Regions from separate parts of the Homo sapiens genome. Here region 2 is linked to region 1. Evidence: fine-mapped expression QTL. Tissue or cell type: fibroblasts. Region 1 holds a variant in brackets; the other region holds the start of a gene. All regions are shown on one strand. Distances are between the middles of the regions.

Evidence for each region. PIP is the estimated chance that this variant, and not a neighbour inherited with it, causes the effect.
Region 2: ZFP2 starts here. The variant in region 1 is fine-mapped to the expression of ZFP2 in fibroblasts (GTEx, PIP 0.96).

What each region holds. Positions count from the first base shown.
Region 1 is chr5:178,844,769-178,853,161 of GRCh38, reverse strand. No RefSeq gene overlaps it. Among named protein-coding and RNA genes, the nearest start is that of ZNF354B, 11 kb to the left of the region's middle. The variant T/A (reference allele first, on the strand shown) is at 4,137.
Region 2 is chr5:178,891,936-178,900,328 of GRCh38, reverse strand. ZFP2 (ZFP2 zinc finger protein) reads right to left here and starts at 4,416. Exons shown (of 5, transcript NM_030613.4): 1 at 4,355-4,416. RefSeq lists silencers at 4,174-4,223, 4,294-4,403 and an enhancer at 4,514-4,703.

The sequences.
Region 1 (8,393 bases):
GACACGCCTGTAATCCCAGCACATTTGGAGGCTGAGGCAGGTGGATCACAAGTCAAGAGTTCGAGACCAGCCTGGCCAACATGACAAAACCCCGTCTCTACTAAAAATATAAAAATTAGCCAGGTGTGGTGGCAGGCGCCTGTAATCCCAGCTACTCAGGAGGCTGAGGCAGGAGAATTGCTTGAACCTGGGAGGCAGAGGTTGCAGTGAGCCGAGATTGCGCCACTGCACTCCATCCTAGGTGACAAAATGAGACGCTGTCTCCAAACAAAAAGAAAACAAATTGAAATCATAATTTTAAGACTAAAAAAAATTTTTAGGCCAGATGCATTCAGTGGAGAATTCTATCAAGTGTTTAAAGCAAAATTTACTCCAAAATTAACACAATACCTTTCAGAAAATAGAAGAGGAGTCTGCAGGAACTCACTCTGAGCTGCTGGAATGCAGTGAGTCAGGGGGTTCCTGAGTGTGGAAATGTATTTGCTCCTCTTTTCTTCTGGCAGTCTCGGAAGCTCACAAGAGTCCTGCTGCTATCAAAAGCCCCGGATGTAATGTAGTCAGACCGTCTGAATCAGAGTGTTCTGATTACATTTGTTTTTTGTTTGAGATGGAGTCTCGCTCTGTTGCCCAGGCTGGAGTGCAGTGGTGTGATCTTGGCTCACTGCAACCTCTGCCTCCTGGGTTCAAGTGATTTTCCTTTTTCAGCCAACCGAGTAGCTGGGAGTACAGGTGCCCACCACCACGACTGGCTAATTTTTGTATTTTTAGTAGAGACAGGGTTTCACCATGTTGCCCAGGCTGGCCTCAAACTCCTAACCTCAAGTGATCCGCCTGCCTCAGCCTCCCAAAGTGCTGGGTTAATAGATGTAAGAACCGATGGTGGGAAAAAGCAGAACAGGGCTGTACACAGGGTGGTCAAGAATGCTGGGACTATGCTGCTGAGATTGTTTTCTGGCTTCAGAATCTCAGATGCTGGCCTGGGTGCCCTCATGGCCCCACTCAGAATGAAACTGGTATTTCAGGCACCATTCACTGCATAGCACCCAATTCTTCAGAATCATACCTTCATGTCAAGGGAGAGTATCAGTGAGCAGACAGCGAGGGACTGTGTGTACCTTCTTAAGTCAGTTTAAACTGAATGTCATTGGCCCAAGTGTAATCCTTGATTTTTTTTTTTTTGAGATGAAATCTCACTCTGTCACCCAGGCTGGAGTGCAATGGTGCAATCTCAGGTCACTGCAACCTCCGCCTCCTGGGTTCAAGCAATTCTCCTGCCTCAGCCTCCCGAGTAGCTGGGATTACAGGTCCTGCCACAATAATCAGCTCATTTTTGTATTTTTAGTAGAGAAGGGGTTTCATTATGGTGGCCAGGCTGGTCTCAAACTCCTGACCTCAAGTGATCCTCCCACCTTGGCCTCCCAAAGTGGTGGGATTACAGGCATGAGCCACTGCACCTGGCAATCCTTGATTCTTTACATGTCACCTAAAAAGATCACATTCTCTTCATTTCCATAGTCAAATTTCAGGCCGCATTCCCAATACCCTTGAAAATTGTCATAATCAAAATGGAGTCACTGAGGTTAAGAAAATCCTGACAAATAAAGCCAACGAAGGCCATGAAGAGAAGGTTCTCACACTTTTATGCCTGAGAATGAAAAAGACTCTACAAAAACCACAACATTGCACAAAGGCCATCACAACCTTACATAAAAAAACACTTCTGCAAGTACATCTGCCCAGCAACTGCCTGTCCAAACACAGCCTGGTATCGCCCTTATTATTGATCTTTGTAGCAAAGGATAATTTTTTGTTTGTTTGTTTTGTTTTGTGAGACACAGTCTCACTCTGCCGCCAGGATGGAGTGCAGTGGTGCGATCTCAGCTCACTGCAACCTCCACCTCCCGGGTTCAAGCAATTCTTCTGCCTCAGCCTCCCAAGTATCTGGGACTACAGGTGGGTGCCACCATGTCCAGCTAATTTTTGTATTTTTAGTAGGATGGGGTTTCACCATGTTGGCCAGGATGGTCTTGATCTCTTGACCTTGTGATTCGTCCACCTCGGCATCCCAAAGTGCTGGGATTACAGGCCTCATGAGCAACCACACCCGGCCGGATAATTATTTCAAAAACAATTATGTAATCTCCTCACTTTTCCCTTAAAATCCTTTGTCTTGCTTTACCTCTCTGAATATGGATATACTTTAACTACAGTATTTCCTGTTGCAATGTCCTATTCCCTAAAAAACACTTCCTTTAGAGAGCCTCTCTCTGTTTCTTATTTAGGTTGACAACCCATGTGGCCAGGAAGCCCCCTAAATGGGCTCTGTGCTTTCCACTTTAAGATCATCCAGGCCGGGCGCAGTGGCTCGCGCCTGTAATCCCAGCACTTTGGGAGGCCAAGGCAGGCAGATCACTTGAGGTCAGGAGTTCATAACCAGCCTGGCCAACATGGTGACATTACAGGCGCACACCACCATGCCTGGCTAATTTTTGTAGTTTTAGTAGAGACGGGGTTTCACCATATTGGTCAGGCTGGTCTCGAATTCCTGACCTCTGGTGATCCGCCCACCTTGGCCCCCCAAAAAACAATCCCCTAAAGCAAGAATGTTTCCAAGTAACTTAACAGCAAAGAGCAAAACCCATCCTTTGTTAAAGGAACACATAATGCCCAGACCCCCAAAATATAAAATGCACAATGCTGGTGTTAGCCGAAGAACATGAGATCCATGGAAGAAGGAAAGAAAACTTTCTCTTCAGAGGAAGAAGCAGTTCTCAGATTGGGGAACATGGCTTCCAGGGAAACCTGAAAGGGCATGCTTGGCAGAGGGAGGGGGAAGTTGGTATCTAGGTCTTCTAGGGTTAACCTTACATACAGATTGAGCAGGGTTGGAGAAATCTATGAATATTCATGAGGGAAGCCAGGGGGATGTGCAGTGGATAAACATGTTAACATTCCATGTTTACTTTGGGATGGGGTTTTAGTATTAAAATTATGTGGACTTTGTCTCTGTATGCCAGAAGGTGAACTGTAACCAGGCGCGGTGGCTCACGCCTGTAATCCCAGCTCTTTAGGAGGCCAAAGTGGGCGGATCACTTGAGGCCATGAGTTTGAGATCAGCCTGACCAACATGGCCAAACCCCATCTCTACTAAAAATACAAAAATTAGCTGGGCATGGTGGCGGGCACCTGTAATCCCAGCTACTCGGGAGGCTGAGGCAGGAGAATCACTTGAGCCCGGGAGGCGGAGGTTGCAGTGAGCCGAGATCGCGCCACTACACTCCAGCCTGTGGGACAGAGCAAGACTCTGTTTAAAAAAAATAAAAAAGTAGTGAACTGTAGTGCACAAAGACAGTTAGTCCACAGTCTCTATAATGGCCGAAACTGCCCTGAGGTTAGGGGCTATTTACCGGTAAACAATGCTTTTTTGGCCAGTCCTCTGTCCAGTTGGAGTTGTGTTGGGACCGTCAAGGCAGGCTCAATCAGCTGGGGTCAGGCAGTTTCCTAGGGTCAGCTGGGAAATTCTCCAGCTGTAGTTGTTTCCGCAATGCTTTTCAGGAGTTGGTTTCTGCTTAATTACAGGAAAGAACCTTACGGCAATTAACGCAGAAATATGTGCCTAACTCATCCTTCTGGCCATGAGATTCTGTTTTGGGTGTGTGTCTCATTTTAACCACAGGAAGTCCACTTCATCTGTATTCGGAAATGTTTTAACACTGACATTGGGACTCAGAAGTTGAAACCTCAAATATTGGCTCTGTGACATGCTGAAAATCCTTAGAAGCAGCCTCAGAATCAAGGCCCTTCTAATCTTATTTTATTCCTCTTCCAAGAGCAGGGAGGGACACTAGAATTTAGAAAGCTCCTTTCCAAAAGAAATGCAATGGTCTTTAGACTCCCTCCGTAGGGATCTCAAAAACCAGGAAAGATTAACCACCAGAGAGAAGATGGGGAGTCAGTCACCACCACATTCAGACAGACTTTTCCTCTATTCTTCTTAGGGCAGCTCCAAGAAGTTACCTAAGAAACTTTATCTGCATAACATGACAGTCTTTGGTGTGTGAACCATTGTCACACCAATTGTGAACCAATGTTCCTGTGAACCATTGTATGAGCACTGGACCTATTCATTCCCCCAT[T/A]TCTCCTTCCCCCATGACATGGACATTTAAGTCTCAACCATCTGCCCCTCTGAGTTCACATTTTGTGTGGATCCCATGGGCACGTGTGCATGTAACAAATTTACCATGCTTTTCTCTTGTTAACCAGTTTTGTGTCACCTGTGATCCTTTACAATGGCGAGGAAAGAGATCACCCCCTTTCTGGCCCTACACTGGTCTTCTACCTAAAATTACCAGGCATGCAACAAGACAGAGCTAGAATTCACCGCTAGCAGAGAGAATAAAAAAGACTCAGATTGATGCGGATGGTGGAATTAGTGAAGAAAAGCTTTAAAACAGCTATTACGGCCGGGCACAGTGGCTCACACCTGTAGTCCCAGCATTTTGGGAGGACGAGGCAGGTGGATCACGAGGTCAGGAAATCAAGACCATCCTGGCTAACACGGTGAAACCCCATCTCTACTAAAAAAAATACAAAAAATTGGCCGGCCGTGGTGGTGGGCGCCTGTAGTCCCAGCTACTTGGGAGGCTGAGGCAGGAGAATGGCGTGAACCTGGGAGGCGGAGCTTGCAGTGAGCCGAGATGGCGCCACTGTACTCCAGCCTGGGAGACAGAACGAGATTCCATCTCAAAAAAAAAAAAAAAAAAAAAAAACAGAAAAAACAGCTATTACAATTAAGACTGCCTATGGTCAAGTGTGCAGAGGAAGCAGGAGTGTAAGATCATTGATGAATATAAAAAGGACTGGAAGAGAACTGCAAAATACAGTAACTGAAAAAAAAAAAATCAAAGAAGCCACGCTATCCCATTAAAACCAGGAATTCTAAAGCAATCGCACATCAAGCACTTCAGTATATTCCTCATAGTGAAATGAGAAAAGGAAGTCACAGGTGAAGTCTCACCCATTTCCCCACATGAAGTGTAAATCCTCATGTATATAGTTTACACACATCACTAGTAAGACTAGGATAACATTTCATGTCAAACAGGATTAAAATCAAAGCAACAGTCCCCAAACAGTTGACGTTCAAACACTAGAGCCACTCCCAAACCATCTGTACAAAATAAGGCTGTTTTTAACACCAACATGCCACATTGTCCAAGAAGCATTAGACGGCCGGGCATGGTGGCTCATGCCTGTAATCTCAGCACTTTGGGATGCCAAGGCAGGCGGATCATCTGAGATCAGGAGTTCAAGACCAGCCTGGCCAACACGGTGAAACCCCGTCTCTACTAAAAATACAAAAAAATTAACTGGGCGTGGTGGTGGGGCTACTCCTCCCCAGGTCCCTCTGTGGTTGCGGGGTAGTCACTGAGTGTGCAAAAAACGCACTAAAAGAGTATTGAAAAAAAGTAAAATTTGTACTTCAATCCATCAATCCTTACTTTCCTAGGGGCCAGTGTATCAAAGTGTTGGTTGACACGTTTTATGTCAGCTTTTCAATATCTGCACAAATTCCTGCCGGCATTTTTATTGGGATTGCCTTGCACTTATAGAGCAAGTTGGGGGAAATTGACATCTTAGCAATATCAACCTTCTGATCCATAAAAAGCTGTTGGCTTAAGTATTATTTGATCTTCATCAGAGTTTTGTAGTTTTCAGCATACGGATTCTGCACATATTTTGTTAAATTTATACCTGTGTACTTTATTTTGTCTTTTTTTTGGCTATTGTAAATGGTATTTTTATAATTTAAAATTCCAGTTGTTATATAACAAAGGTCTGCAAATAGTGACCCATGAGGCAGATCTGATTCCCCACCTGCTGCTTTTCTTTGGCTAAGAATCATTTTTCACGTTATTAAACAGTTGAAAAAATCAAAAGGCTAGCATTTTTGTGACCTGAGAAAACTGAAATTCAGATCTGAGTGGCCATAAATAAAGTGTTGCTAGAACACAGACACGCTCCCTTATTATTTACGTGTTGTCTATGGGTGCTTCCCATTACAAGAGCAGAGTTAGTTGCAACAGAGATCACATGGTTTACAAAAATAAAATATTTACTATTTTGCCCTTCAGAAAAAAAAAAAAAGTTGCCGGCTGGGCACAGTGGCTCACACCTGTAATCTCAACACTTTGGGAGGCCAAGGCGGGCGGATCGCGAGGTCACGAGACCAAGACCATCCTGGCCAATATGGTAAAACTCCGTCTCTACGAAAAATACAAAAATTAGCTGGGAGTGGTGGCATGTGCCTGTAATTCCACATACTTGGGAGGCTGAGGCAGGAGAATCACTTGAACCTGGGAGGTAGAGATTGCAGTGAGCTGAGATCACGCCATTGCATTCCAGCCTGGGCAACAAGAGCAAAACTCCACCTCAAAGAAAAAGAAAAAAGAAAAAGAAAAAGAAAAAGAAAAAAGGTTGCCCATTCCAGGTATAAAGGAATATTATTTATTTAGGTATATTGACTATGTATGGTTGCTAAACTTATTCATTACAATTCCAGGAATTTTTTTCTTTTTGTAGAGTCTTTGAGATTTTTCACATAGCTGTAACAGTACTGATTCCATGGTAAAGAAAAAAATTGCTTGATTGAATATAATTAATGCTTTCCTTAAGTTTATAGACTATTCGCCAATCTTCAGGTTTGTATTATTTCTTAGAATATGATCTGTCCAGATCAATGTTCCACGTACATTTTTTTTTTTTTGAGACGGAATCTCACTGTGTCACCCAGGCTGGAATGCAGTGGCACAATCTCGGCTCACTGCAACCTCCACCTCCTGGATTCAAGCGATTCTCCTACCTCAGCCTCCTGAGTAGCTTGGACTACAGAAGTGCACCACCACGCCTGGCTAATTTTTTTTGCATTTTAGTAGAGACGAGGTTTCACCATGTTGGCCAGGTTGGTCTCAAACTCCTGATTTCAGGTGATCCACCCCATCGGCCTCCCAAAGTGCTGGGATTACAGGCATGAGCTGCCACGCCTGGCCCCATGTACATTTGAAAATAATGTGTGTCCTGCTATTTTTGGATGGAGTGTTCTAAAAATACCAGTTAAGTTGGTTGCCAAGCTCTGTTCAGGCTGCCTTTATTTTTACTGAATTCTGGCTAGTCTCTCATTCAGTTAGTGAGAGAGAATGTTGAAATGCCAGCTATAATCGTGGATTTGTCTATTTTTCTTCTCAGTTCTTTCAGGTTTTGCCTCAAGTACTTTGAAGCTCTGTGTATGAAGGTGTGTACACATTTAGGATTATTAAGTCTTCTTGGAGAATTGATCACCTTTTCACTTGTAATGGCTCTCTTTATCCCTGATTATTTTCCTTGTTCTGAAGTCTAATTTGTTGGAAGTAAATACAGTGACATTAACTTTTTGGTTGGGTTTGTATGTACAGGGGAGTAAACGATAATTCCCCCTTTACCCTTCTGGTTCCTAGCTGGGATCCCTGTAAACAAAAGACAAATTAACAAGAAAAAAACAGAAGTTTAATAACATGTATACCTCTTATATACATGGGATATCCAGGGAATGAGTAATTCTCAAAGAGGTGGTCTAGGACCCCAGCTTATTTATATAGATTCTTCTTTTTCTTTCTTTTTTTTTTTTTTTTTTGAGATAAAGTCTCTCTGTCGCCTCGCTCAAGTGATCTGCCTGCCTCAGCCTGGCCCATGGTGTGAGCCACTATGTACCATATATAGATTTTTTTTTTTTTTTTTGAGATAGGACCTTCCTCTGTTGCCCAGGCTGGTCTTGAACTCCTGGCCTCAATCGATCCTCCCGCCCTGGCCTCCTAAAGTGCTGGGATTCTTCAATCAGCTAGGCCTAGATTCTTCAACTAAAACAAAGAAAAAAGGGTGTGACGGAGGCAAGTTATGGGGCCCTAGTGGAAGATAGAGGCTGGTTAGTCAAACGTGTTATGCAAATTCCTCTGGTTCCATCTCCAGGCTGGTAAGGGTCTACAGTCATCTCCAGTGACCAACCTTTGTCCTTCTTGGTATAGAGGGGAAGGACATCTTTGTAAATTTATGTCTTGCTTTCTGGCAGATGGGGGGAGGGGAGAGAGCTTTTCTTTTACTCATTTCTTCTCAATTGCCTTCAGCTGACAATAATCCTTATGTCAAAGCAGCCTATTTTGGGGGGGCATGTTCTGCCACCCTTCGCATGGTGACTGCAACCATGAATGTAATGGCTTTTCTGAGTTCTCTGGGTCCTCGTACTGGATCACTGAACACCCTCTTACCCAGGCTGGAGTGCAATGGTGCGATCTCGGCTCACTGCAACCTCCGCCTCCCTGATTCAAGCAATTCCTCTGCCTCAGCCTCCCGAGTAGCTGGGA
Region 2 (8,393 bases), 47 kb before region 1:
GAGTAGAAGTGGCACGAGGACACTGGCTGGCTGGGGTGATGCAAAAGTTCTGTACCTTGACTGAGGTGGTGGCTATGTTGGTGCATAAATTTGTCAAAACTCAATGAATTCTATGCTTAAATTGGGTTATTTTATTAAACTGTGCCTCAGAAAAAGCTGATTTAAAAATTAACACTATTTTGGCTACATAAATTAAAATGTAGGTTACTGACAACCAAACCACAACAGTCATCAACCAAAATCTTCTTAATGCTTCCCCTTTCAACATTTCCCTCTTCCAGAAACTCCCTTTGTCCAATACCCCCATTTTAAAAGTTATTTTGCCTTTTATAACTGAGTTTGATAATACTGAAGAAAGCAGTACAAATGGAAATCACAACAGTTTATACTTGCCTCCACGAAGCTTTCTTTAAACTGGTCTCTAATAAATAAACAAGTGATCCTAATAAATCAACGACCCCTAATACATACTTTTATGAGAAGAGAAAATGCCGTTAAGTCTTCAGTATTCCAGACAACAAGGCTAAGTAAGTTTAACCTTAAAAAAAAAAAAGAAGTTAGGGCCAAGTCTTCTGATGCCTTATTTTCTTTTTCAGAGAAGCCTGGAATCCTCACCTACTATCCCAGCTCCATGCTTCCCTCCATCTCACGGACACTACTTTTTCCTAGGAAAGTTTTGATTGTGCGAACTCCCTTATCAAAATTCCTCAGACTGACCTCCACCCCCATGGCCACCACCCTGCCAAACACACAAACTCCTCCTTCCCGACACTTGGTCCTAAAATTTTTATCCGATTTCTTCTACTCCAGCAGAGCATTTCTCACTATCAGTCACTGCCCCCTTCAGTCCACCTCTAAAAGTCTATACACAGGCTCTTGGCTGGGATGATACTAAGAATGCCTACAACTTACTGAATAACTTCAACATTCCAGGAGCCATGCCAGGCATTTTTTACTTTTATTATTTTATTTGAACTTTCAACAGACCTATGAAGTAGCTATTACTATTAAATGAAATCAGCCAGGTGACGTTCTTCATGTCACCTATATGGCAGACAGGTAATGCTGTAATTCCTATTATGACCATGAGAAAATAATGTTTCAGGAAAGCCAAGCCTCTTGCCAAGACAATGTAGCTATTAAATGGTAGAGCTGGGATTTAAACTCTGGACACACTGACTCCCTTATAACAAATCCTCTCCAGTTATCCCTTCCCAACCCCTGAGATGGGCAAACACTACCTACTTCTCCTGGCCACCACCCTGATCCTCCCCTTCACTCCAGCTTGGAATACGGATAAACTGGGTCCCTAACCACACTTGTTCTTATTACCATATTCAGGTGCAATTATGACTGTATACCATGCAGATGTGCCCTCTTTTATGATCCCTGAGAGCCCATAAGCCCTATAAGCACCAGCACCAGCTTGCATATAACTTTTTTCCCTTTCTGACCCTTGAACAGCACCAAGAACACAGCAGGCCAGGGTATCCAGCTGAGTAAGTGGCAGCTAGGAACAGAGGTCAGGAACACAGAGGGGGCTTTGTGAAAAATATCCAGCATTCTGCTATTTCAATAACCCTGTCCTGAGCAGTGAGGCCCACATGCAGTACAGGAGGAAGGGGGAGGTTTGAGAGGGAAAAATGAGCTCACCCGAGCTCCCAATGGCAGAGGCCAAGCAGCCATTGCCTTCTCCTTCCTTCCTGTGGGGTTCTTCCTTGGGGAGGGACAGAAGCCAAAGGAGGCAGAGCTGAGGGAAGGGAAAGAAGCCATGAGAAACAAGACTCCTGCAACAGCAACAATGAAAATACCTATAAATAAACTAAATAAGACCTGGATAGTAGCTACATAAAGAAAATGATTTTCATGTATTAAGTTCACTTCATTATGCCTATTTAGCTATACAAAGACGAAAGACAGAGAGACATGACATATTCTTGCACAATATGTCTCAATATACCAGGATGTCATTTCTTTAATTCATAAACTTAACACATTCCCAGCCAAGTTATGCCTAAGTAACAATATTTTACAGTTAATATGGGCCATGCGCGGTGGCTCACGCCTGTAATCCCAGCACTTTGGGAGGCCAAGGTGGGTGGACCACTTGAGGCCAGGAGTTCGAGACCAGCCTGGCCAAAATGGCAAAATCCTGTCTCTACCAAAAATACAAAAATTAGAGAGTGGTGGTGGGCGCCTGTAATCCCAGCCACTCAGGAGTCTGAGGCAGGAGAATCACTTGAACCGGGGAGGTAGAGGTTGCAGTGTCGAGATCACACCACTGCACTCTAGCCTCGGTGACAGAGCAAGACTCCGTCTCAATAAAAAAAAAGAAGTTCACTAATTATGGAAAAAATATTTAAGTTGTGTGTTACAACAACTAAGACTTTTTTAAAAAAGAATACTGATGAGAGACAACTTGCCCACCAGTATTCATAAAGCTACAAGAATTGGAACACAATATTACTGACTTATTTACCAGATACATTGTTGACCACCTACTGTATACTAGGCACCATTGCATGGGGTAGGGGTGGATACAGCTGTAAATAAAACAGATAAACTCTCCGCAATCATGGATGTTATAGCCGAACAGGGAAAAGCATCAATGGAACAAATTAAAATTCTACCAACCTAAATGGTTCAAATACACATGTATTTATGTATGTGTGTGTATATATATATTTCATTCAAGATATGAAATAAGTGACATTTCATATCAACGAAGAAAAAATTACTAAGTAACTTGTAACAAAGGCTTACCATTTGGAAAAAAATAAAAATGTACACAAAAAATGAAAGTACTAAGAGAAACTACAAACATTTTTGTAATCTCGTGGGACAGACAGCTTCTCTGCCAGTGATGTCAAACACCCAAACGTGAAGAAAAGGTTTTCATGTGTGACCATAAGAACCTGTGACGTTTCTGCACAGTCAGGAAACATGCTTATGTATCAGATACAAAATTAAAATACAAAATGCAAACTGCGTGAAAATATTCATTAGTGTTCAAAATGCAAATGTAAACAATCCTATCTTTTGCACCTCTCAGAAGTTCAAGAGAATACTAACATTCACAGTTGGTGTGGGTAAATCTGGCACTCTTACACTGCAAGTGTTTATATAAACTGCAACTTTTCTGGAGGGAATAAGACAGGAGGTATCAAAATCCTTACTGTACCCTGGACCTAGAAATTTCACTTTAAGAGATTTATAGAATAAGACAAAATGCAAAGATGTATGTAGCCAGATGGCCTATACTGTTTATAATACTGAAAAAAAAAAAGAAAAAAGAAAACCCTAACACAAAAACCTAAGGAGAGGATTCAATACGACACATCCATACTTTCCCTCACACTCATTAAAATGACGTAGCTCTATTTAAAATCTGGTATAAGTAGATGGTGTCAACATATTCCAATGTTTTTTTCAGATGTATTCTCTATCTTCATTGGGTGTTTAGGCCAGTAAAAAATTACAAGGCTTAAGATTTGTGCACTTCAAACCCCTTACCAAATGCATCTCATGACTCAGTTTTAAAAGATAGATGGAGAAAAAGCTGCTAATATTCATATTTCTGTTTAAAAACAAAGTACAAAGTGTTTCTATGCTTATACACATATCCACGCTGCCATGCAGATGGAGATAGATTTTGAATGATTGTTTTAATCTCAATTTTCCAGTTGTGCTACAGTGAAATCGCTTAAGGAAAAAAAGAAAAGATTCCCCGAGGTCGAAACCTGCACCAGGTTGGCCTCCCCATTCTTATTGTGAGATGGGAGGGGAGCCCACGCCAGCGCTCTCGGAATGAGATCCAGAGGGCGGGTCCGGAGACCCGGTTTACACAAAGGGCAGATGCTGCACAGGGAGACCCAGCCTCTGGCCCAGAATCCCCGGGATGTCCGCGGGTTAGGTTCGCTCCACGGTCGCAGCGTGTCCCGGGACAAAGCTGCGCGCGGCTGGGGAAAGCCAGGGAGGAACCCGGGTCCGAGCGACTCTTGGAACCTTGGGCCCCTCCCTGACCCGTGGTGGCCGGCGTGGCCCTTGTTCGAGCCCCCATCCCCGCTGCTCCGGGGCTGTGATTCCACCTCGGCGCCTGCCCAGGACAGCGCCGAAGGACACTCAGCTGCCAGCGTGCTCCCGCCGCCAGCTCCTGGGGAAGAGGGAGCGCACCTGGAGCCGGAGGCCCGGCGCTCCACAGGCGCAGTGAGGCCGCACCCCCGGCCCATCTGCTGCGGGCCCGCCCCTCAACCCTCAGGAAGCTGGGGCCTCGCCCCGCAATCCGGAGCTCCTCCTGCGGGGGCCTACAAGACTCACGGATGGCGCGCGCCCCCGCCACCGGCCCCGCACTCACCCTCTCCCAGCAGGAGCGGGAGCAGCGGCGACCGACACAGCCGCGACCGGCGCTTACAGCCCGGAGCGCCAGACTACATTTCCCACAAGGCTGCGGGGCTGCAGTGCGGCCAGGCCGTCGGCGTGTGCGAGAACGGGGCCCCAGAGGGCAAGGCTGTGCCAGTGGCCAGCTGAGGTGGCCCACGGTGTGGCCTCTGCAGGTCATCGGTGTGTCCAGGCGGGACGCGGGGTTCCCAGGCGGCCCCTTACCCCGGCTAAAGTCGTCTCTCTGGCCAGGCCTGCAATCTCAGCACTTTGGGAGGCGGGTGGGTGAATCACCTGAGGTCAGGAATTCAAGACCAGCCTGGCTAACATGGTGAAACCCTGTCTCTACTAAAAATACAAAAAAAATTAGCCAGGCGTGGTGGCGGGCACCTGTAGTCCCAGCTACTCGGGAGGCTGAGACAAGAAAATCACTTGAACCTGAGAGGCAGAGGTTGCAGTGAGCCGATATTGCGCCACCTCACTCCAGCCTGGGTGACAAGAGCAAGAGAGTGTCTTAAAAAAAAAAAAAAGGCATTAATTTACCAGCAAATAAAATATTTTAAACTTTTATGTATTTAATAACATAAGATACAAAATACATAAAGCAAACATGGGCAGAACCCATTTTTAATTTTGTTTTCTTTCTTTTTTGTACAGATGGGATCTTACTCTGTTGCCCAAGCTGGTCTCAAACTTCTGGGCTCAAGCAACGCTCCTGCCTTGGCCTCCCAAAATGCTGGGATTATAGGCGTCAGCCACCACCCTGGCCTCAGAGTTTTTAACCTACCTTCTCAGTAACTAATAGAAAAGCTGACAAAAAGGTCACTATAGATATGAAATATTTGAAAAGCAAAATTAGTTTTATGTTAATGAATAGACATGTAGACTACTCCACCCCAAAACTGAAGAAAACACATGGAAAAGCATATATTTACTTAAGAAATGATCTCATACTAGTCTGTAAAGTAGCCTCAACACATTTCAAGCAATTGGTATCACACAAGACCATATTCTTTGACAATGTAATTAAGCTAAACATTTTTTAAAAGACTAGAAACTTTTTAGAAAAGATTTAGGTAAAGGGAATATTTAGAGGAAATTTTGCAGCCTTCAAAGCATACAGTAAAGAAGAAAAGAAGGCAGATTGGGTACAACACATCTAATTTTGTTCCCTCCTAACACGTACTGATATAGTTCAGGACACACACACTCACTGCCAAAATATGGCACCTCATCATTTGAGAAAACAGCAGAAACAGGAAGGACTTTTCCACACATCTCCCACGAAGCAGGTTGTAAAACCTAGGAAGAATTTCCTAACGTCCCCTGAAGCAGGTCGTAAGATTCTCATGTGAGATTTGCACTCCCTATACCTGGAGGAAAGTAACATCTTTATTGCTGAAGACACACAGTCACAGAGAAAACTCTTGAACAAACAGGCCTTGCTAAGTTGCCCCCAGTGTATTACTATTAGATCATATCCTCTTTGTCCATTTATATTTCTCTGTGACTTCATCAAATTTAGCATAAAAATACACAACTTTAACTGTTTCTTTGGGACTTCATTTCCTTATGTAGGCTGCTGTGTCATGTAAAACTTGTATTAAAGAAACTTGTATGTTTTGCTCTTGTTAATTTGTCTTTTGTCTTAGGGGTCTCAGCCACCAACATAGGACGCGCAAGAAAAATGTATTTTGCCTCCTCTGTACCACTAAAAGCAAATGTAACAGATTGTTTGAAAACTTGTTAATTCACAAGGTCAGGAAAAACAAGTAAGGACACACCAGCAACATTTTAAATCTTGGAAACGGATGTTATTTTCTTGGCAAACCTGAAATAATGCCAAATCCCAGAGAGCTGTAAGAAAGGTAAAGGCCAGGCTGGGTACAGTGGCTCATGCCTGTAATCCCAGCACCCTGGGAGGCCGAAGTCAGGGGATCACTCAAGACCGCAAGTTCCAGGACAGCCTGGGCAACATGGCGAGATGCTGTCTTTACAAAAAATAAAGGTAGGAAGGAATGGAGTCTCTCTACTGTTTTGTGCAAATGTAGTCGGGTTTATGATCAGAACTGCTGTTATGTACAATGCTGCTAACCTCCAAGCCTTGGAGGGAAAAGGTTAAGGATGAACTTTCTGTTCTTGGGCACACAACCAAAAGGCCTGGACAATGAGAAACTTTTTCTGGACTGGTTCCACTAATGCTTTTGTCCGTGAAATCACGAAGTACCTTGCCAGTAAGGGACTGCCCTTGAATGTTCTTTTGATATTGGACAATGACCCTGGTCACCCAGAACCCATGAGTTCAATGTCAAAGGCACTGAAGTGGTCTACTGTATTAATATCAGATAATGTGGACTTTGTAGACAAAGAAAATTGAGACAGGAAAATTACATAATGATAAAAGGGCTAATCTACCAAAAAGTTATAGCAGTCAGTTTTTAATTTTTTAAAATGTTTCGTAGAGACAGGATCTACCTATGTTGCCCAGACTGGTATCGAACTCCTGGCCTCAAGTGATCCTCCCACCTCAGCCTCCAAAAGTGCTGAGATTACAGGCACATGCCACCATGCCCAGCTTTGTTGCTGTTGTTGTTGTTGTTTTTTGAGACAGTCTGTCGCTTTGTTGTCCAGGCTGGATGCAATCTCGGCTCACTGCAACCTCCGCCTCCCAAGTTCAAGCGATTCTACCTCACCTGAGTAGCTGGGATTACAGGCACTAGCCACTGTGCTCGGATAATTTTTGTATTTTTAGTAGAGACAGGGTTTCACCATGTTGGTCAGGCTGGTCTCGAACTCCTGACCTCAAGTGATCCACTTGCCTCAGCCTCCTAAAGTGTTGGGATTACAGGCGTGAGCCACTGCGCCCGGCCTAGCTTTGTTTTTTTCTTTCAAATTCTACAGCAGGCTTAAAAATGGTTTATGTTCAAACATTACAATACTAAGGGATTCTGTATCTATGTATTTTTTACCAGAGTCTTTATATTTTCATAGTTTCATGTTGTTATTACCTTTCAATTTAAAGAATTCCCTTTAGCATCTTTTTGAGACAGGAGTCTGTCACCCAGGCTACAGTGCGGTGGTGTGATCTTAGCTCACTGCAACCTCCACTTCCCAGGTTCAAGGGATTGTGCCTCAGCCTCCCACCTAGCTGGGACTACAGACGCCCACCACTACACGTGGATAATTCACATAATTTTAGTAGAGATGGGGTTTCACCATGTTGGCCAGGCTGGTCTCAAACTGCTGACCTCAAGTGATCCCCCCGCCTCAGCCTTCTGAAGTGCTGGGATTATAAGCATGAGCCACCTTACCCGGCCAGATCTCCATTTCTTTAGGGTTGGTTTCTGGAGGTTAGTTTCTTTTTATTGGGATGTGTTTCACTCTTTCTTTACAGCCTTGTGATCTTTTGTTGAGACTTGACCACTTGAAAAAAACAGTCCCCTCCAGCAGTCTCTAAGGATTGGCTTTGTGTAAAAGAAGACCGTCATCATTTAGCACAACTAGAGATTCTGGGATTGTCTCAAACTTTTTCTGGGGATGCTACTTCTCTGGGCTTGTGCACAGAATGAGGTTTTTGCCTGCTTCTTCTTTAGAGATTGTAACCTCTTGTTCCCCTTGCTGTCTGCAGTATTACAGTCTCTCTGGTGATGTAACAAGCTCCAGTGCTCACCTTTGTTCTCAGCAGCCCCCAATCTAGCATCCAAACTACTAATTCCAGTCAGTACTCTGAGTCTCATGAGACAAACCATGCCCTTGGAAAGCACCATGAAAAGCTAAAACACTGGATGCACAGCCCACTCTTCTTCCCTCCTGAGGGAAAAACTGGCAGCTGAGTGTTTTTTTCCTGATCACACCTTGCCACGCTAGGCAGTGGGAGTGGCTAGGGTGGGTAAAATGTCAAAAATTTTCTACCATTTTGATGTGTCTCTGTCCTTGCACTCACCTGGCGTGCTACAACTTCTTAGTGTCTAGAATTCTCACAAAAGCAATTTGTAGTTTGATGTTTAGCTGATGTG